Homo sapiens: one gene and its partner. The protein of the gene in region 1 purifies or fractionates together with the protein of each later gene. This does not show direct contact. Each region holds a gene or a part of one and is shown in the gene's direction. Other genes may lie near its edges. The genes, in order: AXIN2 and RNF146.

Evidence for each region.
Region 2: the proteins of AXIN2 (region 1) and RNF146 purify together in Homo sapiens (affinity purification with western blotting; 2 studies listed by BioGRID, with this or other methods). This does not show direct contact.

What each region holds. Positions count from the first base shown.
Region 1 is NC_000017.11:65,558,649-65,575,205, reverse strand, and holds the start of AXIN2 (axin-2), read left to right. Parts: upstream 1-13,557; 5' UTR 13,558-13,756; intron 13,757-14,028; exon of another isoform or gene 14,029-14,381; intron 14,382-14,466; exon of another isoform or gene 14,467-14,693; intron 14,694-14,888; exon of another isoform or gene 14,889-15,690; intron 15,691-16,469; 5' UTR 16,470-16,557. UniProt on the Homo sapiens protein: Inhibitor of the Wnt signaling pathway. Down-regulates beta-catenin. Probably facilitate the phosphorylation of beta-catenin and APC by GSK3B.
Region 2 is NC_000006.12:127,265,939-127,282,260, forward strand, and holds the start of RNF146 (E3 ubiquitin-protein ligase RNF146), read left to right. Parts: upstream 1-925; 5' UTR 926-987; exon of another isoform or gene 988-1,157; intron 1,158-14,292; 5' UTR 14,293-14,400; coding exon 14,401-14,402; intron 14,403-14,577; exon of another isoform or gene 14,578-16,322. UniProt on the Homo sapiens protein: E3 ubiquitin-protein ligase that specifically binds poly-ADP-ribosylated (PARsylated) proteins and mediates their ubiquitination and subsequent degradation. May regulate many important biological processes, such as cell survival and DNA damage response.

The sequences.
Region 1 (16,557 bases):
CACTCCAGCCTAGGCGACAGTGAGACTCCGTCTCAAAAAAAAAAAAAAAAGAAAGAAAGAAAAACCCAGCACCTCATATATGCAATACAAACAGCCTCGCCCGGGCTGCATGCAGACACGTGGTAGCAAATACTTCGAGAGAGGTTCACTGTGGCTTCCTACCTCTGTGCATCCCCTCCTTTGTCCCCTTTGGACCTGGTCTTGGGTGCCCCCTGGGGCCCATCTTACAGCTCTTGGGAGAAGGAACAAGAATTATAGAACAAGGCCGGGTGTGGTGGTTCATACCTATAATCCCAGCACTTTGGGAGGCTGAGGTAGGTGGATCACCTGAGGTCAGGAGTTCAAGACCAGCCTGGCCAACATGGTGAAACTCCATCTCTACTGAAAATACAAAAATTAGCCAGGCATGGTAGCACAGGCCTGTAATCCCAGCTACTCCGGAGGCTGAGGCAGGAGAATTGCTTGAATCCAGGAGGCAGAGATCACAGTGAGCTGAGATCGCGCCATTGCACTCCAGCCTGGGCAACAAGAGCGAAACTCCATCTCAAAAAAAAAAAAAAAAAAATTATAGAACACATCAATGCAGCGTTTGGCACCAGAGGAAGGCCTGGAGGGTAGTGGTGATGGGGGCACCTAGCAAAGCTGGGGGCTGTGATGCTGTACAGGGTTCAGGGCTCCTGAATTCAAAGAACACGTGACCATTTGCAAGTACCTAGAAGTCCCCACTGTCATCACAGCAAGACTTGAGCATGGGAGTGGGCACATTCTGATGGAGACTCACCAGGGGTCACCTGGCTGCAGCCGCTACCCCTAGCTGAAGACTTGCAATGAGCAGTGAAAAGATTAAATGTGCGCCAAGACCTTTACGGGCCTTGGGAAGCCATTTGTGCCAGAAAGCTGAGCACTTACATCTTTCAGAAACTAAATGTACTGGCTAGACTATTTCCATTCAAACCTCACCTTAAATCTGTCATATTTCATTCCCACTTTATAGGGAAGGGAGGGGCATCTTTAAGAGCCGAATAACTTGTAGGGCCTCCCCAGCCAGGGGAGCAGGGCCCTAGGCCAGGTTGCTCTCTTTGTTTTTTTTCTAAAGATGTCTAACCCTTACCAGGTATTCCCTGGGCATCAGGGGGGTTCTAACTGCTTTACTGCATCACTTCTTTTCTTTTCTTTTCTTTTCTTTTTTTTTTTTGAGACGGGGTCCCACTCTGTCGCCCAGACTGGAGTGCAGTAGCTCACTGCAACCTCCTCCTCCGTTCAAGCGATTTTCCTGCCTCAGCCTCCCGAGTAGCTGGGACTACAGGCACATGCCACCATTCCTGGCTAATTTTTGTATTTTTTGATAGAGTTGAGTTTTCACCATGTTGGCCAGGCTGGTCTTGAACTCTTGACCCCAAGTGATCTGCCCACCTCGGCCTCACAAAATGCTGGGATTACAGGTGTGAGTCACCACGCTCAGCTGCATCACTTCTTCGTCTAATCCTCCCAACAACCCACCAGACAGGCATTGCCATTCCTTCCATTATACACTTGGGGAAACCAAGGCACAGAGGAATGACAGACTCTCCATAGGAGGCGGGGCCGTCCATTTCCAGAGCCTCTGTGTTGAACCATTGAGCCACACTTCCCTGGCTTATCCAGACACTTTGGGATAAAGAAAACACCACTTTCCCGTGGCCCACAGTGCTCTGCCAAGCCGGCCTAGGCCAGTCTGCCCCACCTCACCTTTCTCCCTCCCTGCTCTCCCTGGTTCTCAGTTTTTATGAGTTTCTGGAAAAGGCAGAGCTTCCTCTTGCCTGGGGTCTTTGCAGTTCCTGTTCTCAGCTGCCCACAGCCTCCAACTCTCCTGTGCCCTGTGTCTGTCTCACCTTTCCTGCCGATCATGTGGCACAAAAAAATATCAAAACGGGGATTATCGGTGTCCTCTTCCCACCCTCCCCCAGACTGGGGGCTGCTGAGGGCAGAGACCCTGCTCTTGGGTTCCACTTTGGGGCCCCAGTGCCCGCTGCCTTGGGTGCCTGCTTTCCTCGTGCCACCGTGGCTCCCCAAGAAAAGGCCCAGCCCCATGTTCCCAGGCACAACTGCCTCCCTAGGCGTATGCAAGACCCTCCATTGTCTTGTAGAGTTTGAGGTTGATGCCTTTTCACAGGGAAATTCAGAGCAGGGCATCTCCTGGGGACAGCGAGAGAAAGGAAAGCAGGTGGCCTTTGTTGGGGAGAAAAGGTCAAAGTTCAAGGGATGGGAATGGAGTGGGGGAGGGTCAGGTCTGTTACAGATAAGCCAAGTTCGGCTGGAGCAGCTGCTGGACCTGCACAAAGTGGGTGGCTGCCTGAGCGAGCGGAAATGGGTGAAGTCCCGAGGCCACCCCATGGCGCCCCATACTCCCTTCCTGGGTGGCCCTGGTGCCTTTCTTGGTCTTGACCTCGGGAATCTGTTCTACAGCTGAGGGTGTCCCCAAGGGCATTCTCCGAGTATCCACTCTGCAGACAGCGACCCTACCTCCCCCTCCTTCCCTGGACAGGCCACGTCTGGCACCTGCCTTTCACACCTCTGTGCTCTTACAAATTGCTCTGGCTCTTCTCTGACCTTGGAGTAGAAGAGAAGGTGGGGATGGAGCCCCTTACTCACTGCACTCTGCTCTTTGTGACCGTATTTTTTGACCCCCAAGTCAGGCTGCCAGGTCTTGATCATTTTCTGCTTTGTGAACCAATGGATTCCTGTGAAAAGTTATACAAAGGTAGACAGATGAATGCATTTAACAAATTGAGCGTCTTGAAAACAAGGCAGTTTGCAAAAAGAAAGACTCGTTTCAGTGGGGGTGGTGCCTTGTCACCTAACCTGACTCCGCTTGACCCGTTGAAGCTGGTGGGATGTCTTGCTCCAGTCTTCCTTATCTGAAAAGCTGGGCTAGCTCAATACTTGTTTTTCACTGAATTTTTTCTTTTTTTCTTTCTTTCTTTTGTTTTCTTTATTTTTTTACTTTTCAGGGAGACAAGGTCTCGCTCTGTTTCCTAGGCTGGAGTGCAGTGGTGCGATCTCGGCTCACTGCAGCCTCAAACTCCTGGACTTAAGCGATCCTCCCACCTCAGCCCCCTGACCCGAATAGCTGGGATTACACATGTGCGCCACCACACCTGACTAATTTTTATTTTATTTTAAGTTCCAGGATACATGTGCAGGATGTGCAGGTTTGTTACATAAGTAAACGTGTGCCATGGTGGTTTGCTGCTCCTATCAACCAATCACCTAGGTATTAAGCCCACCATGCATTAGCTATTTATCCTGATGCTCTCTCTCCCCCTGCCCCCCTTAGCTAATTTTTGTATTTTTGTATTTTTATAGAGATGGGGTTTCACCATGTTGCCCAGGCTGGTCTTGAATTCCTGGGCTCAAGCGATCCACCCTGCCTCAGCTTCCCAAAGTGCTGAGATTACAGGCGTGCACCACTGCACCTGACCAATTTTTTTTCCCCCAACATCCCTTAGGTGTTTGGGTGATTCATTGAAGCTATCAAGATAGATTTTCTAGTTTCAATAATTATTGTATCTTTTTCTATACTCAAAAGTTATCAGCAAAAGTATTTACCAAAAGAGCATGATTACCAGGAGGTGAGTCTCAATCTACACTTTTTTTTTTTTTTTTTTTTTTTGAGATGGAGTCTCGCTCTGTCGCCCAGGCTGGAGTGCAGTGGCGAATTCTTGGCTCACTGCAACCTCCGTCTCCCAGGTTCAAGCGATTCTCCTGCCTCAGCCTCCCGATTAGCTGGGACTACAGGCACGTGCCACCATGCCCGGCTAATTTTTTGTATTTTTAGTAGAGACAAGGGTTTCACCGTGTTAGCCAGGATGGTCTCTATCTCCTGACCTGGTGATCTGCCGCCTCAGCCTCCCAAAGTGCTGGGATTACAGGCGTGAGCCACCGCGCCTGGCCAGTCTACACATTTTATTGTTTGTGATAGCAATGTTTTTGCTAAGAAAGCTATTAACATTCAACCATACTGATCTGTAGACCATTTCTCCTTGTTTGTTTAGAGAACATACTCCCAGGGCACACTGTCATTAAAAGGGTCATCAAATACCAAGATTTCTTCAAAGTCTTTCTGAGCCACACCATTCAGGAATCCTCTCCCCCAATCCCCGCCAATCCCCGCCCCCACCAATTCCCATCTAAATTCAATGACAAGGACTCCGAGGTCTGCTTTCTAAAAACCATCATCATGCATAGAATTAGCCCATGTCCCCGCTAATTTTGCTATCACATTTAAGTCACACGATCCTCTTATTAGCCCCTTTCTCCCAGGTTCCTAGTCGCTCCATAGGGAAGATGCATTTCCTCTCCTCTAATTCGAATGCAATAGCTTGCAAGGACTATTCACATTTACCTCCTAGACCAGTGAGTTCTTTCCATTTGGGAAGAAAAAGGTGGCGGCAAAGCAAATATTGCTTTTGAGTGTGACCAAATGTCTCTATCCTGTAACTCAGTAACATCTCAAAATAATTTGATATTTCTTTCTTAATCTATTAGAATTTTGATATATTTCAATAGAAATTTCCAGTAACCTTTGAAGAACTTCAAATATGTGATATTTATTTATTTATTCATTAGATGGAGTCTGGCTTTTCTCACCCAGGCTGGAGTGCGGTGGCACCATCTCGGCTCACTGCAACCTCTGCTTCCCGGGTTCAAGGGATTCTCCTGCCTCAGCCTGCCAAGTAGCTGGGATTACAGGCGCCTGCCACCATTCCCAGCTAATTATTTTGTATTTTTAGCACAGATGGGGTTTTGCCATGTTGGCCAGGCTGGTTTCGAACTTCTGACCTCAGGTGATCCACCTGCCTTGGCCTCTCAAAGTGCTGGGATTATAGGCGCGAGCCACTGGGCTTGGCCCAAATATGTGATAATTATTGCCAATAGCTTATGCTTGTCGTCATTGACCATCAACGTGCTGTCATTTCATAAAGTACAGAAAAGGGCCGGGTATGGTGCCTCACGCCTGTAATCCCAGCACTTTGGGAGGCTGAGGCTGGCCGATCACTCAAGGTCAGGAGTTTGAGACCAACCTGGCCAACACGGTGTAACCCCCGTGTCCACTAGAACTACAAAAATCAGCCAGGCATGGTGGTGCACACCTGTAGTCCCAGCTACTCGGGAGGCTGAGGCAGGAGATTCACCTTAACCTGGGTACAGAGGTTGCACTGAGCTGAGATCACGTCATTGCACTCCAGCCTGGGCAACAGAGCGAGACTCTGTCTCAGAAAAAGAAAACATAAAAAAAATAAAGTATAGAAAAGATTCACAACCTGTATGTCTTGCAACTGGGTTCTTACCATTAGCAATGTTAACTGACAGGGCGAAGTCTCATCAGCAGGTCAGTTTTCACCACTCCCCTCCCCAGAGGATACATCTTCATCTGTGGGTCCAGAATCTGGACATGGCTTAGCCGGGTGCCTCCTCCTTGAGGTTTCCATGAGGCTACCAGCAAGCCAGCAGCTGGACCTGCATCATGTCAAGGCTTGCCTAGGTGGCGTTCGGCTTCTGAGATCACTTGGTTGGTGGCAGGGCTTGTCCCTCGTCACACGGGTCCCTCAACAGGGATGCCTCAAGATTCTAGGGAAAGCACCTAAGGAAGGAATCGCAGCCTTTCGATAGCCTAATGTGGAGTGGATGTGCTGTCACATCAGCCATACTCTATTTATTAGGAGAGAGTCAAATGCTATCCATGCTCAAGGGGAGGGAAGTATGCAGGGTGTGGAACTAGGAAGCAGGGATCATTAGGGCCCAACTTAGAGGATGCCAACCACAGCTCCTCGTGACACAGCGACTACTGGCTTGACTCTGGCAGGGGGTTTCCAAGACCCTGTTCCAGACCCTAGGCTGGTATCAGTTCTGATTGGCCGGTACACAGGTTTCACCAGCTATTAAATATCGCCCAGGTCCCTCCTTCCCACAATCTAGTTCAAGGGATGCAAGTATCACAAAACACGGTCCCTGTCCTCAGAGAGTTCATGGTTGAGTGGGTGGGACAGAGAAGTAGATCAACCACAGTGTTTGCTAGAGGTGAGCCCCAGATGCCACAGAAGTAGGAGGATGGGCTCTAGCCCGGTCTCGGGGGATGAGGTGGGAGAGGACTGAAGAAGTGGCAGAGGGAGGGCAGTCGGCCAGGGAGGAAAAGGAGAGGCAATCCACCATGCATATGGTAGGGACAAGGGGGTGTCAGCAAGAAATACAGCTGGAGGGCCAGGCATGGTGGCTCACGCCTGTAATTCCTGTACTTTGGGAGGCCGAGGTGGGTGGATCACCTGAGGTCAGGAGATCAAGACCAGCCTAGCCAACATGGTGAATCCCCGTCTCTACTAAAAATATGAAAATTAGCCAGACGTGGTGGCATGCGCCTGTAGTCGCAGCTACTCTGGAGGCTGAGGCAGGAGAATCACTTCAACCTGGGAGGCGGAAGTTCCAGTGAGCCAAGATTGGGCCACTGCATTCCAGCCTGGGCAACAAGAGCGAGGCTCCTCCATCTCAAACAAACAAACAAAAAAAGATAGAAAAAGAAATAGAGCTGGAAAAGGGCCTGGGCTTGGGCCGGCTACCTGTGCACCACACATAGGGTTCTGGGCCTTATCCTGAAGGTTATGTGCAGCCGGGGAGGATCTGAAGCAGGAGAATGACATGGGTGGCTCTGCACTGCACAGCGTTTACCATTGCAGCACTGCGTGAGGGGGGTCAGGGGTTAGGGCTATAAACTGTAGGTGTGAAGCATCATTAGAACATTTGGCTGTCCCTGGCAAGGGCCCTGATAGCAGTTGTGGATTTGCAGAGCAGGAGGTGGTGGTGGGAGATTTTTTTAGAGGCAGAATCAACAGGGCTGGGTGAATGAATGGAGGCGTTTGAGGGAGAAGGCGGAGTCTAGATGTGGCCCAGGTTTCTTTTTTTTTTTTTTTGAGACAGAGTCTTGCTCTGTCCCCCAGGCTGGAGTGCAGTGACGCCATCTCGGCTCACTGCAACCTCCACCTCCCGAGTTCAAACTATTCTCCTGCTCACCCTTCCAAGTAGCTGGGATTACAGGCGCGTGCCACCACGCCCGGCTAACTTTTTGTATTTTTTTTAGTAGAGACGGGGTTTCACCATATTAGCCAGGATGGGCTCTATCTGACCTCGTGATCCACCCGCCTCGGCCTCCCAAAGTACTGGGATTACAGGCATGAGCCACTGTGCCCAGAGGTGAATAAGGCAACTTATTTCAAGCTCAGCTAAACTTTGCTTTCCAGAAGTTGTTTAAAATGAGCAAAATAAGATATCAGAAGGTGAGAAAAATGTCTACGGGGGGCGGTTTAGGAACACGCGTCGCAGGTTGGCGTGACGACTTTAGGGGGATTCCTTTCTATTTTCCAGTTCCTTTTCTAAAAATGACCTTTCGGGGCTGTTTTCTCCCCCAACCTCGCCCTTTGTTTTGGTGTCTCTCACTGTGGAGAAGATCACTTAAGAAAACAGAACCTCTGGTCCGGGGGCGGTGGCTCATGCCTGTAATGCCAGCATTTTGGGAGGCCAAGGCAGGCGGATCACAAGGTCAGGATGGGGGAATCACAGGGCCAACATGGGGAAACCCCATCTCTACTGAAAATACAAAAAAAAAAAAAAAATTAGCCGGGTGTGGTAGCGGGTGCCTGTAATCCCAGCTGCTTGGGAGGCTGAGAAAGGAGAATTGCTTGAACCCGGGAGGTGGAGGTTGCAGTGAATCGAGATCATGCCACTGCACTCTAGTCTGGGCGACACAGCGAGACTCCATCTCAAAAAACAAAAATAAATAAATACATACATACATACATAAAATAAAATAATAATAATAAAGAAAAAAGAAAGCAAAACCTCTTTCTGGATTTGTTTTAATATAGGTATATCGGTGCTCTCCTCTGGTTACAAGCTCAGGCCAACTCCTAAAAGCCAAACTTGAAGACCACGAAGGGTGAGATGCTGAAAAAAAATCAGCAGTTTGCAGCTCTATTTACAATCCATAATAAAAGCACTTGAAAGTCAGTCCAATTAGGAAGTTTTAAATTACTGTTTAACTGTGTTTTAAATTTCATATTAAAAAAAGATATTTTATCAACAAATAAATTCCCCCAACACTTCTGAAGATGGGATTTCTTTTCTTTTCTTTTGAGGCAGAGTCTCACTCTGTCGCCCAGGCTGGAGTGCAGTGGCACGATCTCGGCTCACTGCAACCTCTGCCTCCTGGGTTCAAATGATTCTCCTGCCTCAGCCTCCCGAGTAGCTGGGATTACAGGTGTCTGCCACCACACCAGGCTAATTTTTGTATTTTCAGTAGAGATGGGGTTTTGCCATGTTGGCCAGGCTGGTCTTGAACTCCTGACATCAGCTGATCCACCTACTTGGGCTCCCAAAGCGCTGGGATTACAGGTGTGAGTCACTGCACCTGGCCTTGAAGATGGGATTTCTTAGGGAAACCTTACTTTTCCCCTTGTGGCTTCAAAATCTCCACCTTGGCATTCCCAGTCCCTCCTCTGCAAAGGGGAGAGGAAGTAGGTCCATTCCTCCTTAGGTGGATCAACTCCACGGAGATGCCCATGTAAATGGCTGCCACTCTAAAAGACGTGGGTCAAACTGTCCCAGATCAGGCTGTGGGTAGCCCAGCTGGCAGAGCCAAGGCAACCTACCTACAGGTAGGGGCTGGATGAAGCGTGCCTTAGAGGGATTTCAGACAGAAGCCCTGTTGTGATTCTTTCAGGAAAGTATCCCAGATTGTATGTATTAGTCCTGTTGTAAAAGTCAAGACCTCCAGATGGTCTCACCCCCTCCATCTCAGCCAGCCCCTCCCTGGGTCTCCTCACTATGGTGTGGAGGAAAAAGAGGCTGGGCCAGGAGTCAGGACCCCTCAGAAGTTCCAGCTCATCTCTGATATGGGCAAAGTGATCCTGGGGAAATCTCACTTTCTCTTTGCTTAATTTGTCTGATTTCTTTCTTTCTTTCTTTCTTTTTTGGAGACAGAGTTTCGCTCTTGTTGCCCAGGCTGGAGTGCAATGGCGCAGTCTCCGCTCAATGCAACCTCTGCCTCTCGGGTTCAGGCGATTCTCCTGCCTCAGCCTCCCGAGTAGCTGGGATTACAGGCATGCATCACCATGCTCAGCTAATTTTTGTAATTTTAGTAGAGACAGGGTTTCACCATGTTGGACAGGCTGGTCTCGAACTCCTAACCTCAGGTGATCTGCCCACCTCAGCCTCCCAAAGTGCTGGCATTACAGGTGTGAGCCACCACACCCAGCCAATTTGTCTGGTTTCTTAAATGAAGGGTTGGACTAGATAACTCTTGAATGGCCCCTGGGCTTATTTCTTTCTGCATAGGACTATCCTTGAAAGATGGTAGCAGGGCACAGCCTCCTTTATCTCCTTTAGGCCCCCTATGGTCAGCCTCCTGGGGTCATTCTTCCCCAGATCGTCACTCCCAATGGACGGTATCTTTGCTTTGGAGATAGGGAGTTTCTTCCCAGAATAGGTAACAGGCTATTGAGGGAACAGACTTACTCTGTGAAAATAACCGCCATGTTCTATTGTGTGTCCAGCTCTGTGCCAGGCATTTATCGTATTGCTCAGGCTCACAACAGCCTTTGCAGGGGAGGTTTCCTCCAGTCTACAGGTGAACAAATGGAAACTCCGTGTGGTTAGGTAACCTCCAGTCTTAGGAAAGGTTACCTGTGTCTCTCTTCACCTTCCTCCCCAAACAAAGGTACATTGTCTAAGGCAGCACTTTTCCAAAGGAATAAAAGACAAAGTTACTGAATCTGAGAGAGCAGTGTCCTGGGTCTCAGCTCCTCTGAAGTCCCAGCTGGTGTGACTTCCCCTCCACAGTGGTTTTTGTGGGGCTGACTAAAGGTCAGAGATCTGGCCAGATGCCTCCCAGGGAGCCCTTAGTCCTTGTTTTCTGGGATTCTAGGATTTCAGCCCAGTATATAATTCCAGCAAAGAATCACTCTCTGCTTTATTAAACTTGTCTGCACTTAGGCAAAGTGGACTGTTTATCCTCCGTAGGGTTTTTCTTTAAAGGTGGAGCGGGGGGGCGAGTGAGCATGTGCAGAAATCCATCACCTTGCTTTCCAGTTTCCAGGCAACCGTGCAGGATTACAACAAGTCACATGATAGCGCTGCTGCCAGGGACAAGGGGAAAATGGAAAACGTGCTATCTTGAGAAACGGGCTGCTATAAGCACAGGACTTTGGATTCTCCTCTAGAAATATTATCAACAAGTAGTCAGAGACCCAGAGGCTAGAGAGAGGGCTTTCCAGTACTTGGCCCAGCCTCCTGCTGGGAGGGAAGTGTCCCACCAGATATAAAGCTGTAGGAAAGGGGACAGGCCAGGGGTGATGGTGGAGGGAGTCACTGCCCTAAAGTGACCCGAGCACCTGTTCTGGAAACCATGCTCTCAGAGGAGTTATTTTTTATTTATTTATTTTTTGAGACGGAGTTTGCTCTTGTTGCCCAGGCTGGAGTGCAATGGCACGATCTCGGCTCACCACAACCTCCGTCTCCTGGGTTCAAGCGATTCTCCTGCCTCCGCCTCTCAAGTAGCTGGGATTACAGGTATGCGCCACCATGCCTGACTAATTTTGTATTTTTAGTAGAGAAGGAGTTTCTCCATGTCGGTCAGGCTGGTCTCGAACTCCTAACCTCAGGTGATCCACCTGCCTTGGCCTCCCAAAGTGCTGGGATTACAGGCATGAGCCACTGCACCCCGGCCCTCAGAGCAGTTATTATTGACCGAGAAGATCCAAACCAAACCGGGCCTTGCTCCTGGGTCCCCAGTCCCAGTCCCAGTCCCCTCTTGCTACAGTCGCAGCCATGGGATAATGAGGTAGTCCTTTGGTTAAAGTTGAGCCTACAGTGATTAGGGCTGGTTGGGGGAGGCAGTGACGGGTCGGTGGGGACAACTGGGAGGAGAGGAAAACCACCCACAAAGACCAAGTTTCCACTTCCTTTTTGAAAACCTCTTTTTTCTGAACATTGTTTATTTTGATTTTAGATGTTTTGATTTTTCTCTCTCCCCCACCCCCCACATTGTGTGTGTGTGTGTGTGTGTGTGTGTGTGTGTGTGTGTGTGTGTGACTTTACTGTTGTTTATATGGTAGACACTTTTATGGCAATCCATACCCCTCTGTCTACATTTCTGTTCCAGTAATAACACCCTCTGTGGCCCAAAGACTCCCTGGAACCACAGTGACAGTTTTACTCTTGGCACTCCTGGGGTGGCCAAAGGTGGTGGCTGTGTTCTTGGCCCTGGGCCAGCTCAGAGCTGGTGGCTAAGAGGGTCCATGGGCCACTGACCCCCCAGAATACCAGCAGGCCGGGGCTTTTAGAGCCCACTGGTTTCCTCACACCAGCAGTTGTCCTAAGGCAAAGATGAGTCATCGGGCCACACTCTTTCCCTGGCCTTCCTGGCTGGCTTCAGGGCCACATTTCAGGGCTGGTACTGCTGTCTTTATGCCAACCTGGCTGCCTGGGGTCGAGAGCCTGGAGCTGCAGACCATGGGCACCGAAAGGCAGGTTTTGGGGAGGAGCGGCCACCTGTCATGGCACCCACGAGCCAGAGTCCAGAGTCTTAGACTAGAAAGTCTAAGAGCTTTCTAGTCCCTTGTCACAGTCCCTTAGGCTGAGGGCAGGTGGCGCACAGTCCTGCCACCTGCCCCTTTCCAGCAGATCATGGGTGGTGGATCTTCCTCCTCTTTTTTTCTTTTCTTTTTTTTTTTTGAGATGGAGTCTTGCTCTGTCGCCCAGGCTCACTGCAACCTTAACCTCCTGTGTTTAAATGATTCTCCTGCCTCAGCCTCCCGAGTAGCTGGGACTACAGGCGCCCCCCACCACGCCTGGCTAATATTTGTAGTTTTAGTAGGGACAGGGTTTCACTATGTTGGCCAGGCTGGTCTCGAATGCCTGACCTCAGGTGATCCGCCTGCCTTGGCCTCCCGAAGTGCTGGGATTACACGGGTGAGCCACCACACCCAGCCTCTTCCTTCTCTTTTTCTATGGATACCTAGATAGAGCCACAATTCTTGCATGTTTTAAAGTTCTGAAGGCCTAATGACAGGCCATCTCGCATTTAAAAGGGCTCGTCATCCATTAAGTTGGAGAGTAAGAGCCTTGCACAGCTCTGAGGCCAGGACTCTGCCTTTCACTTCTTGGATCTCTTTGGTTCACACCTTTATGTGTGTGTGTGTGTGTGTTTTTTTTTTTTTTTTTTGAGGGAGTCTCGCTTTGTCACCCAGCCTGGCGTGCAGTGGTGCCATCTTGGCTCACTGCAACCCCCCCACCCCCGTCTCCTAGGTTCAAGCGATTCTCCTGCCTCAGCCTCCCGAGTAGCTGGGACTACAGGCACGTGCCACCACACCCGGCTGATTTTTGTATTTTTAGTAGAGACGGGGTTTCGCCATATTAGGCAGGCTGGTCTCGAACTCCTGACCTCAGATGATCCTCCAGCATGGGCCTCCCAAAATGCTGGGATTACAGGCATGAGCCACCGTCCCCGGCCCTTTGTTTTTTAAAAGGAAGAAAAGTTAATTATTCGCTCATAACATAAGGAATCATTCTATAGCAGCAGCAGAATAAATACACAATGCTCTGGGTTTGTGACATATTTTCTCATTTTAACGGAGAAGAGAAGGTTGTGTGTGCCTTATAAACGTTTTTGGGCAAATGTGGGAGAAATTCAAAGGTGACAATGGGGTGAGGAGTTTTCGATACATTAAAACGGCATGCATGCCTTGTCGTTTGGAGTGGGAAAAAAGATATTCCTATCGGTTTAATATGTAACATATGGCAGAAGAGGGGACTTTGGAAGAGTAACGGGTATGCAGTTGTTTGGGAGAGATGGCCAATGTGTGCCGCTACGAGGGTCTTATGGCCAGCAGGTTAGGAAGCTGGACCTAGGTCTTCAGGGCACTGAGGTATGCCTCCTAACTGGTGTTAGCACTCAGGCCTATACTGGCGGATTCACACCCCACTTTCACACATGCACAAACGCAATTCATCCACCAACTGCAGTCCTATATTTACCCGAACTCAGATGCACGTGCACAAGCGCGCACAGGCATGCACACGCCTCCAGCGGCTGGGCCCGAGTCCGCCCTATGACAGCGGGCCAGCCAACCCCAGGGCCGGAACTCCCTTTATAAAGTCCTCCAAGCCCAAATTCCCAGGGAAACTTGAATAGAGGTAGAAAAGCGTTTGATGATAGAAAAAAAAAAATCTGCTTGCTTGCAGTTCTTGCGATGGCCATAATGCTACCAGAAACTGTTGCATTCCAGAGCCGGGGAGAGCGAGGGCAGGCAGGGGGAGGAGGCGGGAGCAAAGAGGCCGGAGAACTTAAAAGAAGAAATCAGAACTCGGGCTGAGAATGCCCTCGGGGCCGCGGGGGGCTGGCAGGGGGCGGAGGAGAGGCCGGGGAAGGGTTAACGCGGGAGCGGAGCGTGCGGCGGGGGCGGGCCGGGGCGGGGCGGGGCGGGCGCGGGGCGCTGTCCCTTTAAGGCGGGCGGCGCGGGCCGGCCGAGCGCGGCTGTGATTGGCGCGGCGGGATCACTGGCTCCGCGAGCCTGGCCCGGGGGAGTCGGCTGGAGCCGGCTGCGCTTTGATAAGGTCCTGGCAACTCAGTAACAGCCCGAGAGCCGGGAAATAAAAATAACCCCTCAGAGCGATGGATTTCGGGGCCGCCCGGCGGCCGAGGCGCCCGCCGAAGGCCCTGCTGTAAAAGGTGGGGGTGGAAGCTCGGCCCCAGCGGAGCCGCTTCAAAGAAAGCCCCCCTCTTACAGGGGGCGAGGTCGCGCCGAGCCGCGGCGTGGGCGCGGGGGGCGGGAGGGGGCCCGGCCAGGCGGAGGCCGGGCCTGGAGGGGGGCGCGGGCGGGGCGGCCCTGCGGAGCGGTGGCGGGGCTGCGGGGGGCGGCCCGGGGCGCGGCCGGCGCGTACCTCCCTTTCAGGACCGTGCGCTCGGCTCGCGCCTTTGAAGTGCACAGTTAAATCCACAGCGCAGTTTTTGTTGGAAGCGCCCGGAGGACATTTGGTGCGCCGAGTGACTGCTGGAAACAGGACCTGCGTTGAAAGCCGGGCCGGGCGGGGGCGGAGGCCCGCTCGGATCTTTTGCATAAAAGGGGCGGCGGGGCGCGCCGTTCCCCCTCCCCGGCCGGTGGCTTTCGCTCTGAACCCGGGATTGTTGTTTCCCGCACCCCCTCCCCCGCCGCACGACTCCCCATGTTCCCCGACGCCGCGGCCGGCCCGGGGGGGCCCGGGGCTGCCGCCGCGAGCCGAGCCGGGGGCCGGGGCCGGGCCCCTGCCAGGGGCGCCTGCGAGGTCTCGCCGCCGAGCGCGCGCGGGGATCAATGGTGAGTGCCGAGGCCGAGGCGGCCGGGCGGACCGCGCGCTTTGATGTGCGGGGCGGCCCTTTGAAGTTGGCAGGCCGGCTATTTCGGGGCGCGCTAGGGGCCGGCGCGGAGGGGAGCGGCGGACCCGGCGCCCAGCGTTCCGGGGGGCTTGGCCGGGCAGCCTTGCGCGCCCTGCGCCGGAGCCCCCTCCCCAGCGCGGTGACCGGGTTGGCGGGGGGCCCAGAGAGGAGACTTATCCGAGTGGCGGCAGTGGCGGGGGCGGAGAGGGGGCAGATACCCCCCGGGGGTCGCGTCGCTGTCGCGGTTATGGATGTGAGTCGGCGTGTGAGTGCGCGCGGGAGTGCCTTTGGGAGGTGGGATGAAAGGGTAGCGGCGCCCCCCGCTTGCCCTCCCCCGCCCCCCGCCTCTCCTCCGCCCCATCCTCTCCTCCTACTTCTCTTCCCCCTCCCCTTTTCCCCTCCCTGCCGCGGGTCCGCGCTAAGGGGCCCACAGCGCTGGCGGAGGCTCAGTCTGCGCGCAGGACCGGCCCAAGTCCGGGGCGCCCGTGTCCCTCGCGTCCCTCCTCCCGGCCCGGGCCCCTCGCCCGTGGCCGCCCCGGCCCCTTTTGCGGAGAGGCAGAGACTCCGCGCGTCGCCATTTCTGGACTAGGCTGCTGCTTTCTGTGCTTTTTCTGCGGGCGCCTCTGCAAACGGCGGCGCCGGGGACCGACCCCCCGCCCGGGCTCGGGGCGCTGCTGGCGTGTCCCGGGGTTCCGGCCTCGAGGTGTGCCCGCCAGGGCTCTGGAGGCGTTCAGTTGCATTTGGGCCGGGGGACCGGGCCGGAGGGGCTCGGAGGACATGAGAGCCTGGCTTCGGCGGCCTTCGTCTTCCAGGTAACGGGGCCGCTCCACCTCCCACCGCCCGGGTAGCGCGGTGCCAACGGCAGCCCCACTTCTCCGTGGGCCGCGCCGCCCAGCCCCGCGGCTCGAGGCTCTGGTCGGGTTCAGCGTGCACCCATCCCAGATCCGGGGTCCCTGGCTTCTCGCCCGGGGTTGCACCCCGTTCAGCCCCTACCCTTCTTAGTTTGATCTTTTCCGTGCTAGGGAAAGCAGCTTGTTTATTGGTTAGATAAGACTTTTTTCTTTGGAAAAAAGACAGGCTTGAAATCAGTAGAGTTTGGGATTCTTGGCACAGGCAGTAGTGGCGTGAGACGGCTGGTGATCCAGTTTTGTAGGTTTCGCGGATCCGGGAGGTGGGTTGGGGGCACGGGGGCGACGGTTCCGAGGCTTCTCAGCTCTCTCTCAAAGTTTGAAGATGAAAGTCTCCCCTGAGTGAGTTGGTTTCTGGTTTGGGGGGAGGTCAGGGAAGACAGAGGTGTTGACTGAGCTGGATTCTTGGTGGGGGTAGGGGGCGCGTAGCGAACACTCAAATCTGAGTTGGGGAGGGGGTGTTTGCGTGCTGAATCTGGGAGTCCGGGAGCCCAATCCGCCTATGCTGGGCGGGCTTCTCTTGGGCCAGGATCTTCTGAATTTTTAAGGAGTGGGAAGAGGGAGCGCAGAGGGAGGGGGTGGGTGGGGAGAATGGGAACCAGATGCCGGGGAAGGGCACGTTTGGAGCTCGAGTTATCTGTGCAGGGCCGAGTGGGGAAATATACCGAAATTGGTTTCACCTGCACACAGCCTAGCGGCTGGGAGTGCGCCTTTTTGGAGTTGATGGTATCGGGGGAGGGGAAGGGAGGGAAGGCGAGGCGCGGGCTGAGCTGCCCTGCGTGCGCCCTGGCCGAGTGGGTTTTTGGAAGGTTGTGTCTTACACCTCCAGTGTCCCCCTGCCGTCCCCAGCTCTTGCCTTCCTCTCACCTTCCCCGCCTCTTTCCCAACAGCTCCCTCCCACCCCCAACCCCGAAAAGTGTGCAGGGAGCTCAGATTTCGCTTTTGAAAAGCAGCGCCTGATACTTTAGATGAGCACCTCGCAGATAGCTGGGTTGCTTGATTTGAATTTGAGGAGTTGAAAAGCCTGTTTACTTTCTTGCTTTGATGTTGGGTAGATCTGGTTTTGATTAGATCAATACCCTTTTCTCTCTCCCCACCTCCCCCCTTCCTTTTCTTTCCAGAGAGGAGGTTCAGATGAGCCCCTGCTGACTTGAGAGAGACAGAGAGACCACGCCGATTGCTGAGAGGAACTGGAAGAAGAAAAATTCC
Region 2 (16,322 bases), on another chromosome or scaffold:
GATTTCAGAGGAATAACAGAAAACATATACATTTCTATACCTATAAGGACACTGAAAACTTCCAATCCTGAATCAAACAGTTAATGAAATCCCAAAATGCAACACTAATGCAAATGAGAAGACGCTGTCATAGAATGTTGAAATACATACTCTTCTAAAGATAAAAGGTCTGCTCTTCCACCCTCTTCATTTTCCTACAAATTAGGAAAATTTAATCAGTTCTGAAAAAGGAAATGTACATGCTAAAATGGTGAATTACTGCTAGAGTTCTGATGTTTAAAACCACAGGCTTGCGATCAAAATAACCTCTTTAATTTTAGATTATCATGCAGATTAATTTCTTCAGTTTCTCAGGCACTATTCTGTTTTTTTTAAAAAAAGGGTGGGGTTTCAAAAGAAAACTAATACTCATTTTTTCCCCGATTAAATTGCTCAACCATTAAAAAGGAGAACAAATTGGAAAGTCCTACAGTACTCTCTCCCCTCCGTCCCCCCCCTCCCCATTTTTTTTCTTGAAAGGGAACAAGCAGTACTTTTGCTAAGGGATCTTTAAGCCGAAACTCAGCTAGGCGCCCCAGAGCTTCCTCAGGATAGCAAAGCTGGATTTTTGAGCAGCACCACCTGCTGGTCCTACACACGTTTTACTTCCTCCACCCCAAATCTCTTTCTGTTGGAACTGCACTCTTTCAGAGCCTCTGGGCCCTAATACAAAGCAAGCACACTCTAAAGAAGCCAGAAGAATGCAAGCAGCGAAGTCGCCGCTCCCCACAGGCAAGAGAGTACCGGCAGACAGCGGCGCGAGACAGGGGCAGAACGATGAGGCGCCGGAGTTAGCTCGCCGGTGCGGGTGCGGGTGCGCGGCGCGTCGCGGCCCCTCCTCCGCGACGCGCCGGGTGGTCACGTGACGGCCGCGCGCGTTCCCGGCAGCTGCGGGCTCCGAGGCCAGAGAGAAAAGACTGCGAGGTGGCCGCAGCTGTGGCCGGAGAGGTGGGAGTCGGAGCGAGGCCCTCTCGGGGGAGCAGGGTGAACGCCGGCCACTCTAGGATCCTCACTCGGGGAGAGGAGGCATAGCTCGCGGTGTCACCTCCAGCCGCAACGTACTCCGGGTCGGCCTTGCGCTCGGGGCCTGAGAGGGGCGGCGGCGGGGTCAGGGGCCGGTACGTAGATGGACGCCCTTGGGCTGGCGCGGCCCCGGCTGTCCGCGCAGAGGCGGGATGGGACAGTTCAGCCCTTTCCGCCACCCCCGCCTTGGCTGCTGGGGCAGGCAAGACGACCGTGACAGCCCCTGCGCTGCCCGAGGGCGCCGCAGCCCCTGCCCTGGGTGACGGCCGGAGCTGGTCTCGGTCCGGGTGCGAGGGGCGGAGCAGCGGCCATTACTGCGCAGCCTCTTCCGCCTGAGCCCGCTTCGCTGCCTCGGGTGGCAGGCGGGTCCCTCTCCTCCCCTCTGGGCCGTGGTTTTAGGCCTTTACCCGGGGACCTTCTGGCCTCGAGGTGTAGGGGCGGCGATGGTTTTTCGGCGGTAGCCTGCTCCATGTTTTCCCGTGTGGGGTCAGACAGTTTGGGCCTTGGGTCAGATCGAAGCCAGGGCGTACAGTCTGCATTTTTGCCTTTTCCCGGAGTGTCTCTGGCTGCTGCTTTCTCTTCTCTCGCTCTTCCTCCTTTTTTTTCTCCTGCTCAGTGTCTCGGTCTTGCCTAAAACGAAGAGAGCAATCCCTGCACCTTGTCCTAGTGAAGCCCAGCGCTGCATATTCTTAGTTGTTTTTGACGGCTGTTGAAGCATCGGAACAATTAAGAGATCTCAGAATATCCCTTGAGCCTCCAAACCCTCTGCATCTTAAAAGCTGAGGCTGTTGCTTTGTTCTGATTGTTGGGTGGGGAGTTCTCTTCCTACCCTCCATCCCGTCTGAAGGAGTGTGGGTCTTCCATTGTTGTCGCTATTTATTTTGCTAAGGCTTCTAAAGAATGTAAAATTGTTTTAAGAGTGGAGACGGAACCGTCCTCTCCACAGGTAAAACCTACAGGACTGTAAGTTTACACACACATCCTGGCAACTAGAATCTTTTCTCGTTAATCATATTGGTATATGTTTTAATTTATTTTCTCTAAGTGCCATTTTAGTGAGCACTTATTTCTCAAGTTTTGAACATTTTGTTTAATATTTTTGTAATATCGAAACAGTGTAGAACTGAGGAGAGAAGAAAGCCCAAAGATGATAGGGTACGCTTTGTTCTTTGTATGATTGGCATTTCAGGTAGTGGGCACATCCCCCCCACCTCGTGTGTGTACTTTTCAAATGGGATGTGAACGTATAATATTGGCATTCAATCCAGTATATAATTATAGAATTTGGAAGACTTAGGACATTTTAGTCAGTGAATCTATATTTAGACTTTTCAAAGACATGGCACGTAAGGACACGTGGAGAAAATGTCCCACACAGATAACAGGATTTGTGATTTTGGCTTTGCTGTTTTATGATTAGCAAATATTGTTTGTATAGAGTGTCTGGGTGCCCTAAAAACACATGAAAATAGGTCAACTAAATCTCGTTTTAAAGAGAAAACCGGAAGAGTGAACACCACTCTAAAAATAGATTTTGGATGTGTTTGTTTTGGTGCCTTGTATATCTTAAAGTGGAGGATGTTGTTCAGCCCAATCTTTCATTTAGAATTTATGTCTCAAATGAGCCAGTGTATCATGTGGGCAGACTGGAAATACATTTAAATATTTTTTTTCTTCGCTGGTTGTTCAGAACTTGGTAGAATTATAATTATCAGGAAAACTCTCTCCAAATAGCTGGTCTTTTAGACAAGAGAAGAAAAAAGAAATAACTTCTTTTAAAAGGAGATGTCAACTTACAAAGTGTTTTGTTTCAGTCTCCACCAACCTAACTTGTCAGAGGAAAGGAACAGACTTTTTTTTTTAAAGGATCCAAAACGATATTTTGAGTCAAAAGAAGAAAAGGATATTAAATCTTTTGTTTTCACAATATCGATCTTTTTAAAGAATATTATTTTATATGTTAACCATATACTACCAGGAAACATCTAACAGCACTGACAGTTGGGAATTCGAATGCGTATTTTTCTCCCGTGTTAGTAATAGAAGGTACTGAGCCTTTTCCATTCTCTTGGTTGCCTTGTGCCTGAGGAATCTGAATTTGTGAAACAACATCTTTGTGGATATAGAAACTAATTTATGTAACACTTGGCTACAACCACCTGTGCTTACTTACGGACTATCTTTAGTTTTCATGGCGTGTTACCTTTTGGGTTAATTCAAATCCAAAATGTTGTTAACGGACTGCTAATTAAAGCATTTAGAACTTAGAATTACAGAATTATAGAGTAGGATGAGATAACAAAAGACTGGGGGTTATGACTTGACCAAGGTCACACAGATAATTTGCCAAAGAGCTTTCTTATTTATGAAATGGTTGCTGGCTAAGAAACATCTGTGTGTGATATGATTAAAAGACAATATTCGTTCACTTTTACATCTCATGTTTTGAAATAAAATGCAAAGCTCACTTTTTTGTTGTTTTGAGAAAAATTAAAGGGTTTAATGGGCTAGTATAAAGATTGTGAAGGCAGTAAGTAGACTGCCACATAGTAACGTCTTAAAGGGAAATAATTCTTTAAAGTATCAGACCCCATTTAGTTGAAATGAGTTTTGTCTGAAGTTTCCAAGTATGACCTATGCTTTTTCTTAGCTAATTTTTAGCAGGAGATGATGAGGGCTAAAAATTGAGACATTAGGGCATTTAGTTACATCTCTCAATTTGTGACTGGTTTATAAAAAATACTAAGATGTGTCTGCTAACTCACACCTGATTTATCTACTCCTTTTATGTATATATAATTTTTTTTGAGTTGTGTACCAAAAGTTGGAACATTTCAAGTATTTTTTCTTTCTGTCACTGAGTGATTTCATGTAGAACATTTACTGTTTTGTGTATTTTGAATAAATGGCAAAAATCTTATTAAACATTAGCTGTTAATAATTAGAAAAATACAGTAAGTCTTCAAATATTTATAATTGATATTTGTCTTTGTTTTTATATGTATTTATATTGATGTTATATGCTCATCTTTTTCTTTGATTAAAGATAATCGCTTGCTTGAATCTATTACCTGAAAAAAACTCTTGACTTTGATCTTGTGACTGACTTGAAAAGTGGGAGTATGAGTATTTTGAGTTGTTACAAATTATAAATGGTACAATATTACTTCATTTTTAGTTGTATTTATTTTTCACTTATTTGAATGGGTCAAGATTTAAATTCATTGATAATCCCTAAACCCCTTTGTGTATTTTTAAGTTTTACCTGTCACTGTTTTTTTCCTCCAGAATTGTTAGGGGCAAAGTATCTAATTTGGTTTTAGACTTTTTCTTTTTTTTATGTTACCTTCTTCATACATCATCATATTAAGTTTGGTGTAAAATTTACAGGTCATTCATTCCAGTAGGAATTATGTATGTTTGAGTTATTTATGTTTGGCAAATTAATTCTGGCCTGTAGTTGAAATCATACTGTTCTGTTTTACATCCCCCTATTGGTTAAAATAAAAGCATCCCTTCTCCTCCAACTTTAAAAAAACTTTGGTTTCAAATAATGTGGGAGTTTTCTGAGGGCTTCTTCACATGATTGTTATAAGTATTACATGTATGCCCTATTTTGTGCCCAGTTGAAATTATAGTTGACCATTGAACAAAGGTTTGAACCGTGTAGTTCCACTTATACAATACTTTTTTTTTCTGCCCCTGCCACCCCTGAGAGAGCAAAACCAATGTTTCTTTCTCGTCCTCCTGAAAAAGATGAAGGCCTTTATGATGATCCATTTCTACTTAATGAATGTAAACATATTTTTCTTCCTTATGATTTTTTTTTTTTTTGAGATGGAGTCTTGCTCTGTCATTAGGCTGGAGTGCAGTGGTGCGATCTTGGCTCACTGCAACCTCCACCTCCCAGATTCAAGAGATTCTCCTGCCTCAGCCTCCCAATTAGCTGGGACTACAGGTGTGCGCCACCATGCCCAGCTAATTTTTGTATTTTTAGTAGAGACGGGGTTTCACCATGTTGGCCAGGATGGTATTGATCTCTTGACCTCATGATCTTCCTGCCTCAGCTTCCCAAAGTGCTAAGATTACAGGCGTGAGCCACCGCACCTGGCCTCCTTACGATTTTTTAAATAATGTTTTCTTTTTTTTAGTTTATTGCAAGAAAACAATATATAATACAACATACAAAACATATATTAATCCACTGTTTATGTTATCAGTAAAGCTTCCAGGCAATAGTAGACTATTAGTAGTTAAGTTTTTGGAAACTCAAAAGTTTACATGGAATTTTGACTGCGCAGGGTGTAGACATTCTTAACTCCTCACATTGTTCAAGGGTCAACTGTATAAATTCTGAGAGTTAATAGGTGATGGGTCAGTTTGGCAGAATTGGGGCTACCTAAACCCATTAACTTTGATTATAACAGAATATGCAGTTTTCTTTTTTAATGTGTCTTCGGCAAAAGTCTAGGTAAATTAACATTGAATTCATTGTCTCTATTAAACAATTCCTGTAGTGACTTGTCAGTTTTGTATTTAACAAGATTAATATGCAAGACATTCTAGACCAGCATTGCCCAGTAAAGTAGCCACTAGCCACATGGAGTTATTGAGCACTTGACATGTATCCAGTCTGAATTAAGTTGTGCTGTAAGTGTAAAATACACACTGGATTTCAAAGAAGTATGCATACGCTTACCCAAGAACATAAAATATTACATTAACAATTTATATTGAAACATACTGAAGCAGTAATGTAGAAACGTTGGATTAAATAAAATATATTATTGAAATTAATTTTACCTGTTTCTTTCTATTATTATTTTTGTAGAAATGGGGGTCTCACCATCTTGCCCAGGCTGGTCTATAACTCCTAGGCTCAAGCCATCCTCCTGTGTCACTACCCACAAAGTGCTAGGATTACAGATGTGAGGCACCATGCCCTGCCTCTTTTTATTATTAATGTGGCTAATAGAAAATTTGAAATTGCATACGTGGCTTGCATCATATTTCTATTAGATAATACGTGACCTTTTCTGTGAGAGACAATACATTGTAGAAAGACATTTTTAAAGGTAAATTTGAATTTGAATCGCATCTCCCAATATTGATGGCTTTGACTTTGGGTAAGTCATTTAACTTCCTGAGCTTAGGCTTCCTCATTTGTGAAATAGGTATAGTCATATTTCACAGGGTTGTTTTGAGGATTCAGTGACATATGGATTTGGTAGTGTTTCACTAACTAATATATGTGAATCACTTGGAGATCTGGTTCTGTAGGTCTAGGGTGGCACTTAGGATTTTCATTTGTGAAGAGCTCCCAGGTAGTGCTGATAGTACTAGTTGGGAATCCCAGTTTGTTTGTATAGCTAGGATCTAGAGCATTATGTTAGTTTTAATTCATTTTCCTTCCCCAGCATTTATCCAGTTAGTCTGCACTTTGAAAAAATTATTCATGAGGATATAGAAATTGAAAAAGTCACCAAAGCATGCAAGATTTACTAAAATTATATGAACTGTGGACTCTTAGGGCTGCTGTAGGATTCCTGTTTACATCTGTTAAGTTTTTTGTCTGCTTTTATCTGGAGTCACTTTTATTGGTTGCATAAGATGGCTAAATCTCAGCCAAGAAGAACCTGGTTGTGTTGTTCTACGCAAATGTATTTTTGAAAGATAATGCATAATGAGAGGTGAAATAAAAGAATGCTCAAAGACAATAAGAGGGCAGTACAATTGACCCTTGAGCAACATGGGGTTAAGGGTGCCAACCCCTTGCACAATTGAAAATCTGAGTATAAGTTTTGACTTCCCCAAAATTTAACTACTAATAGCCTACTGTAAAGTCAGTTAACACGTTGTTTGTTATATGCATTACATACTATATTCTTACAATAAGCTAAAGGAAAATAAATTCCTAAGGAAGAAAAAATACATTTACAGTACTGCATTTACCGATACTGTGTTTATGTTACCTGTTTATAAGGTGTCTGTCTGAAATGATGGGTAACTGCAGCTGCAGACCCATCTAGGGTGTGTACCAGGTAATTTAACTTCTTGTAATGGCATGACTTCTTGGCTTCTTGGGAGCACTTCTAGCATCACTAGTGGCACTTCACATGGGTCCCATGGTGTTATTCAAGGTTTATGGTATTGTACTAAACATGATGAAAAATACACAAGAACAAGAGATTACATTTTACTCCAATACATGCAGAGATGATTAGTGTCCACAGCATTTTAAGTGGAAATTCATAATAGCAACAGGAAATTATTACAGTATGTACTACAATTAATTTTATACAGCTATGATTCATACTGCATCTTTACATTTGTTTAAATTTCTTGTACCACCTCAAGTGGCACCATATGTGTCTGTGTTTACTAAGTTTTGATACACTTTAACTTCTTATAATTTCTCTATATTTTATAATACTAAATGATAAAATAGACTATATATGTTTTATGCATTCATAATATACCTAATTTTTTCTTTTCCTTTTTTTGATGTTTCAAGACTACATGATTCATCTGCAAGTTTTTTCAAATTGTCACAAATCTCCAAAAAAATTTCCAACATATTTATTGAAAAAACTGTATGTATATAAGTCAACTTGTTCATTTCCAACCTGTGTTGTTGAAAGGTCAGCTGTATGAGGTTATCGTCAAAGATCTTTAAAGAAAGAAATGACATCATCAATATTTTGAAAATTAGAGAAAGCCATTTCTAAAGGAATCCTAGAAATGACTTCAGGCCAGAATTAGAAAAAAAAAAATTGAAGAAATAGGCTAAATAAATATGTCTTTGGCTGTGTTCTTTTGAAAATGGCATTAATGTATAGAAAGATACTCGAATGTGAGTTATGGTCACTGATACATTCTTTTGTTTACTGCTGAACATAACTGGACTAGAGGAGTGTAATGAGGGCAAGGATGTTCTTTCTGTTGAAGGAGAAAGTTTATATTGATGGAAAGTCATTATTCATAGATACTTTGCTGTTATTTCAGTACTATTAAGTAAATAGTTCTCTGCTCCTGGGTTTGTGTGTGTGTGTGTTTTCTTTATAAGGGGCTTTTTCAAATAATTTTGCTATTGATAAGTTACTTGAATTTAATCATTAGTCTTCAAATAAGGAAAGCAGAATGAGAGAATGCATCTCCTTGAATTAACCAGATTTTTTTTTAGTACCTTTGTTCTAGTGGATATGTAGCAAAGCTTTTACTTTAATATTTGTGGCTATAGCTTTATTTCAGCTATGTGAAATAGTTTTATAGGAAAGATCACAGCTTATTTGGGTGTTCAAATATGGGTTCTTTAGAGGATTTTTTTGTACTTATTTTGAAGCTGCTTTGTTTCAGTTAACTTAGATTCCTTTAAGAATCAACTTTTGTTTCAGAGATAAAATATTTATGGATAAGACCTAAGTAAAGTAAGTGAATAGAGAGGAATAAATTAGATTGGTTACAGATAATGTGTAAATGCATTCAGGAGATAAGGAGAATTAGAAACAAGGACATTTTTTGTGTATTTCTTAGGAATAAAATGGTACCTTCTACACATCTCAATTATTAAAGTACAAATAGTGATTGAACGAAATTTTTAGAAGAAATGTTTTAATTGAATCTTCACACTAGAGGTTTTACCATTCAATCAATTAGGTTCTGAGAAGGATGGATTGGTACATCTTAAAAGACTTGTAAGATAGCGAAGGATAGGCAGTGCTAATGACCAACAGCAACACTCAGCAGGACTTTGTGGACCAAAAAACTTCAAGTTAGAATTGTGGGTAAAGGCTGGGCATGGTGGCCCTCACCTGTAATCCCAACACTTTGGGAGCCTGTGGTAGGAGCATCACATGAGGCCAGGAGTTTGAGGTTTAAGTTACCTGCAGTCATACCACTGGACTCCTGCCTGGTTAACAGACGCTGTCTCTTAAAACAAAACAAAACAAAAGAATTGTGGGTAAAGTAAGAGCAAATTGACTTTTGAGTGATGGTCCGAAAACCTTTGTGATGGGTAAAGGGTAGAATGTCTGTATAATTTTTCTGAACTGGAACACTTGTTGGGAGACCAAGGGCAAACTGGATAGATGCTGGGCTGACCTATGTGGTCATCCTAGTGAAGAATCATAAGCTTTATTGGGGAAAGAGCTTTGTGAAGCTGTTTTGGCTGTTCAGAAACCCATCTTGGTTTATGCTTAGATTTTTATCTCCATTTTGGAGAATTCATTGACAATGAACAATAGCTGGGTAAATGATTTGCTTGCCAAAAGATACAAAGATGGGTTGAATTTTATATTTGTAAATGTAGGAACTCCTTTAGATTTTAAGTTATATAAAGCAAGGATTAGAACTTAGATATTTTTATGTATCTTACAGATTCCAGCTTGAGTTCACAATTAGAACTCAAGTGTTGTGTTATTTGAATAAATCTAATCCTTTGATATTCTGTTCCTCACAATAGTTACTTTTAGGAGTTGATTTTTCATTCATCCAAAAAATATCAGTTCAACAAAAATTGATTGACAATTTACTAGCTATTTAAAGATATAAAAATCTCCCTATCTTCAGGGGATTCATGATTTCACAGAAGAGTCAGACTTCACAAATGAATTGAAATTAGTGCATGTGATAAATTCCGTAATAGAAAAACATACAAAACATAGAGGAGAGAACAGTTAACTTTCTGGAGGTAGTCAGAGAAAATGGTAGAGATAACCATTTCTGTGTAATATATTAAAGAACAAATAGGCATTCATAAGCTGTAAAAGGGAATAGATCGTACCAGGCAGGAGGAAATACAGAGCTACAAAGGGAGGTTTGCAGGACTATGAGTAATTTTATACAACTAGATTATTAATCTATGGGTGGTTGTTGAAGATAAAAAAGACTAGAGACTAATTATTTACAGTTTAGATCTTTAAAACCTTTTAATGTTGTCCTAAGGAGCTTTGTCTTTATTGTGTAGGCTGAGGACCCAATATTGTGCTTCACATATGGAAGAAACCTGGTCCATTTTGCCTTTTAAATATATCAGTCAGTCCTAGCTACTTGGGAGGCTGAGATGGGAGGATCGCTTGAGCCAAGCAGTTTGAGGTTTTAGTGAGCTATGATCATGCCACAGCATTCTAGCCTGGGAAACAGACTGTAGAGTGAGTGTATGTGTGTGTGTGTGAGAGAGTGAGAGAGAGAGAATCTCACTCAAAGGCTTAATAAATGAGGGTGATACTGACACAAGATAATCAGGCTGAACAATAGTCCAGGTGAGAGTTATGTAGGTTTAAACTAGGGCACTAGCAATGGGTAGAGAGTACAGGATAGATTCCAAAGGGATTAGGAATAAAAGTTGACAGAATTTATGGTGTGGTTGGTTGGGGTGGGGGAGCAGGGGGCTGTGTGGTGAGAGAAAGGACTTTCTCTTTTTCTCCATGAACACAAAGTAGTTAAGACATGAAACCTGAGATGTCATATTGTAAGAATTATGCAGAAATGGGGGTTTGTAAAATGTGTGTATATGAGATAAAGATATGAGGGGGCCAAGGGTTCTGTTAAGAAGTAAAAAAGATTGGGTTCCAGAATGGGCAGGAAAGGAAATGAGATCAGGAACTGGATAAAGGAAAGGAGATGGTCAAGAGATGGTAGGTCCCCATGAAATTGAAGAGCAGGTGTGGGAATGAGTAGGCTGGAAGAACCAGAGCTTGTGATCTGAGAGTCGGATTAAGATTTCAGAGAGGCAGCAGTTTAGGTGACAACTAGCTTTAAATGTGATTATAATATTTGGTTGCTGGAGAGTAGATTAATTTCTTCAAATTTAGGATTTAAGGAACTGAAAATTGAGGATGGTGTTTCTCAGATTGTATTTGAAGGACTAAAGCATGAGTACCACCTGGGGTGAGATTCCTAGGTTTAAACCTATGTCTACTGGCCTAGAATTTCTAAGGAAAGGGGCTGAGAATATGTATTTCTAACAAGCAATTTCAGTGATTCTGATGAATAGAAGTTGGGACAAGTTTAAGAACCTGTGCAATAGGTGTTGGATGGTTCATTTTCAAGGCTATTTAAATAGGCTGATAGTCATGTCAGGAGTTAGGATGAAGAGGATGATCAGTAGTGAAAAGATGACATTAATCCCTTACAGGTGGTGAGAGAGCAGTTTTAGGGGATTATGGGGTATGTTAAAGTCAGTGTGATAGAGACTTGAAAGAAAAAGTAATGATGTTGGAGCAGTAAATTGTCTCCTCCTGTCCTATATATAGGGAGTGTATGAAAATGTGCAGTTTTCTGTTTGGCGTAGGCTGCAGCAAGGAAATGAACATAGCCTTCTTTGATGCCATTGAAGTTGTAGGCTCCTTGAAGTTGGTGAAAGGGTTGAGAGGAAAGTCAAAATAGTGGAGTCCATTTCATCTAAAGTCAGAGTAAAACAAAAAGGTTACTTAGAAACCTTGTTTAGTCAGTATATTAGGCAGTGTTCTCTAGGGGGACAGAACTAATAGAATATATATATGAGTTTATTAAGTATTAGCTTACACGATCACAAAGTCCCACAACAGGCTGTCTGCAAGGAGCAAGGAGAGCTAGTCCGAGTCCCAAAACTGAAGAACTTGGAGTCTGATGTTCGAGGGCAGGAAGCATCCAGTACAGGAGAAAGATGTAGGCTGGGAGGCTAGGCCCATCTTTCTTTTTCACATTTTTCTGCCCGCTTTATATTCACTGGCAGCTGATTAGATTGTGCCCACCAGATTAAGGGTGAGTCTGCCTTGCCCAGCCCACTGACTCAAATGTTAATCTCTTGGCAACACCCTCACAGACACACCCAGGATCAATACTTTGTATCCTTCACTCCAATCAAGTTGACACTCGGTATTAACCATCACAGTCAGTTACTTTTGAAAGTTCTCTGATTTTAAAACAAATTGTTTGTTCTGTTAAACATTTGGTAGGATAAGTCAGCTTGTATTTAGGGGCCACATAATGGCATTAAGAATATGTTTCTTTAAACACTAGAATCTTAAGATACCGTAGGGAGATAGATGCCCATAGTATGAGAGCCACATGGAAATAAAAGAAGATTGAAGTCTCCTCTATCTTGTGTTTACTGTGAGATCTATCATTTCTTTAGTTATCATGTGTTCTTGATTATTCTGTGTAATATGATGTGCGTCCTGTAGTGGACATGGTGAGGTGGAGATGGAAATACTAAATGAGAAGAAAGAAGATTAATGACTGAGATGGTACAGGTTTTTAAGAGTACAATTCCATGTAGTTAATTTCATTTACAATGTTATGCAACTATCACCATTATAGATTTTCCACAACTTTTTTTTAGCATTACAAACAGAAACTCTGTACCCATTAGGCAATAACTCTCCACTTTCCTTCCTTCACTCTCTGGTAACTTCTGATACCTTCTGCTTCTATGAATTTGCCTATTCTTGATATTTCATGTAAGTGGAATCATACTTTTCTGTATGTGGCTTATTAGTATGTTTTCAAGGTTCATCTATATTGTAGCACATATTTCTTTTTATTACTGAATAATGTACTGTTGTATTTATAGACCACATTTTGTTTATCCATTCATCTGTTGGTAGATACTTGAATTGTGTCCACCTTTTGCCTAATATTTCCGCAGTGAATATTGGCATACAAGTGTCTGAGAACCTCTTCAATTCTATTGCTATATCCCTGGGAGTGGCATTGCTGTGTTAGCTTTTTGAGGAAGCAACAAATTATTATTCACAGCAGCTACACCCTTTTACCTTCCTACCAGCAGTTTTCAAAGGTCCTATTTTTCTACATCCTCACCAACACTTATTATTTTTCCCTTTAAAAAAGTTGTAGCCTCCTTATAGATGTATCATTGTGATTTTGATTTACATTTCCCTAATTACTAATAATGTTAAGGATCTTTTTGTGTGTTTATTGGCCATTTGTGTATCTTCTTTAAGTTCTTTACTCATTTTTTGCTCACTTTTTAATTGGTTTGTCTTTGTTGTTGAGCTGCAGTTCTTTACATATTCTGGATATTAAACCTTTATCAGATACATGATTTGCCAAGATACTCTCCCATTCTGCAGTTTGTCTTTTTATTTTCTTAACAGTGTCTTTTGATGCACAAAAATTTTAAACTTATATAAAGCCCAATTTATTTCCTATGTTTCTCATGCTTTTGATGTCATATCTAGGAATCCATTGCAAATCTAAGGCCATGAAGATTTGCTCCTGTGTTTTCTATTAAGAGTTTTATGGTTTTATTTCTTATATTTAGGTTATTGATTCATTCTGAGTTAACTTTTATATATAGTATACGGTAGAGGTCCAGCTTAATTATTTTGCATGTGGAAATCCAGTTGTCCCAACAACATTAGTTAGAGGTGCCTGTTTTCCCCCATTGAGTAGACTTGACACCCTTTTGGAAAATCAGTTGGCTATTGATGTATGAGTTTATTTCTGGACTCTCAATTCTATATCATTGGTGTATTTATCTGTCCTATGCCAGCACCAAACTGTCTTGTTACCTTAGCTTTGTAGTAAGTTTTGACATTGGATTTTTCAAGATTGTTTGGGTTACTTAGGGTCCTTTGCAATTCCATATGAATTTGAGGATTGCTTTTCCATTTCTGCAAAAAAGGTTGTTGGAATTGTGATAGGAATTATGTTGAATCTGTAGATCACTTTGGGTAGTATTGTCATTTTAATATGTTAAGTCTTCCAATCCATACATCACTTGTCTATTTACTTAGCTCTTCTTTAATTTCTTTCAGTAATGCTTTATAGTTTTCTGTGTACAAGTCCTTCACCTCCTGGGTTAAGTTGATTCCTGGCTATTTTATTCCCTTAGTTACTTTATGAATGAACTGTTTTCTTGATTTCTTTTTTGGATTGTTGTCTCCTGGTGTATCAGAACACAACTGATTTTTTTGTGTGTCAAACTTGTAACCTGCAACTTTGCTGAATTTGTTTATTAGCTTTCTTGGGGATTCTATGAGATCTTCTATCTAGAGAGAATAGACATAGTTTTACTTCCTCCTTACCCGTCTGTATGCCTTTATCTCTTTTCCCTAATTTGCTCTGCTAGAACTTACAGTCATGTTGAATAGCAGTGGTAAAAGCATGCATCTTGTCTTTAATTTTTCCCACTTTTAAGATAAAGTTTTCCACTGAATTTTTTGAAAGGATTATACATAATTAACTGATTCTCTTGATCTTAATTACTCTTTTTTTCTTTTGCAGCACAAAGAATGAACCAGCAGTGGAAGAGAAAATACTGTAAGCTGGCTGACTGCTGGTGAAGAAAATGCTTTATTTTTGTGGCAGGCATCTGTGGGATCTGTAATAGAAATGTAAGTGTAGCATCATGGTTTTTTTCAGTGCTGCAGTAAATTAAATGGATTGGTTTAACGTGTGGTAAATTGAGTATCTGTCATATGTAGTTTTAATTATATTAAATGAGCATTTTCTTTTGACTTATAGGTGCTTTATTAACAATTTATTTACATTAAGTTATCGTTAATGTAGATTTCCAAGTCTCCTCAAAAGGAAAAGTCTCTATAAGAAAAACTGAAGACACAGGAGTTTGCTCAAAGAATGCTGAAATAGATCTCCAGGTCCTCTGGGTTCTACCTTCTTTTTACATAATAATTTTCTTAAATAACTAAGCTAGGCAAGTAGTACTAGCTTTTGTAAATAAGACAGACTACTAGGTTATAAAAACTCTAGTTACTAAAAACTTGTTTCACTAAATTAAAGGAATTTCTACATAATTGATTTTTTTAATGTAATAATACATCACTGCATTTTATTCATATCACTTCACTCTGATCCCCAGTTTTACTAGTTGTGCTTTCATCATTTATCTTTGCATGATATGCTTTAAAGTGTTACACACTACCTTGGATTTGTCCATATTTAACTTCACCGTATTGATGAAACATTTTTCACTATGAATATATTTCTGTTTTCTAAATTCATATAAGCCCTATGCAACTTGATGTCATTCATGAAAAATGTAGTGAATATTTTATTGACTTTTAATTACAGTGTTTTTCTTATTAGAGCAAGAGTGACCTTGGTAGATGCTATTTCACATTTTCCCAGTTTGACATAAAACTCTTGCTTTCTACTCTTCCAGTATGATACTGGTTACATGTAATGATATGTATTAACAATAATTAATTTATTATTAAAAGTATGACCATATTATTTTTATTCAGTATTGAAAATTTGATAATTGAAAAATGATACTAATAAGCATTTGTCTTTAAAAATATATATTTTATTTAATCCTGTCCATTTATCTATCTGTATACATTTTTTAAAATCTTAATAGGTCAGATAGTCTAGGTGCTGGTCATCAAGGAACTTACTGTGATCCAGTAAATGAGACATGTATGTAATTAACAAACAGTGGAATAGATGCCATATTAAGGTAACAATCAGATGCTATTGAAACTGAACAGAGGAAGAGATTAATTTCATCTGAAGGGTTCAGAATGAACAGAATAAGTTTCACCTTGCCTTCAAAGAATGAGTAGAATTTTAACAGTCAAAGAAAATTAGGAAATATTTTTCAAGCCAAGGGAATGAGGAGGGAAACAGCTGCCTAATCATCAACACATTTTAGAGGAGTCAGGGAACAGTAATATGTGGGAAGGCAGGGTAGGAGAAAGAGACTTCAAAATAAGTGCAGGGAGTGAACATTTATTTAGTACTTACTATATTACCAGATTTTACATTTATTTAACATACAATCAATCTTAATTGATTTTGATACTTAGGGACAGAGTATATTGATCAGTCTTGGAGGAGTTAGGGGACAGTACTTACTAGATGTTGAGGGGTTAGCTTTGTAAACAAGTAGCAGTACCCCATATTGAGCCAGGAGGAATAATGATAAGACAGTAAAGGTAAAGATAGATTTTCAGGATTTATTTTTGACTTACCTAATTTCTCAGTGATACAGGTGTTAGTATATCGATAAACTAGGAGGGAGAAGTTTTATGATAGTCTCTGGGGAATAGGGAAAGAAAGATGTCTTGGCCGAGTAAAAGTTTACTGGGATTGATGGTGTTTAGGAAATCAAAATAGCTATTAAGTGTGTGGGGTTCACAACTTTTGCACCACACAAAAGTGAATTGTATGGTGAAATTTTTGTCACTTAGAGTAACTTGCTTGATTATTCTTTTTTGCGAATGTCTCCCTTGTTGGCTTTTGTGGTGGTGGTCTATCTTTATTTCCTGTTCTTCTCTGACCATTCCTTACAC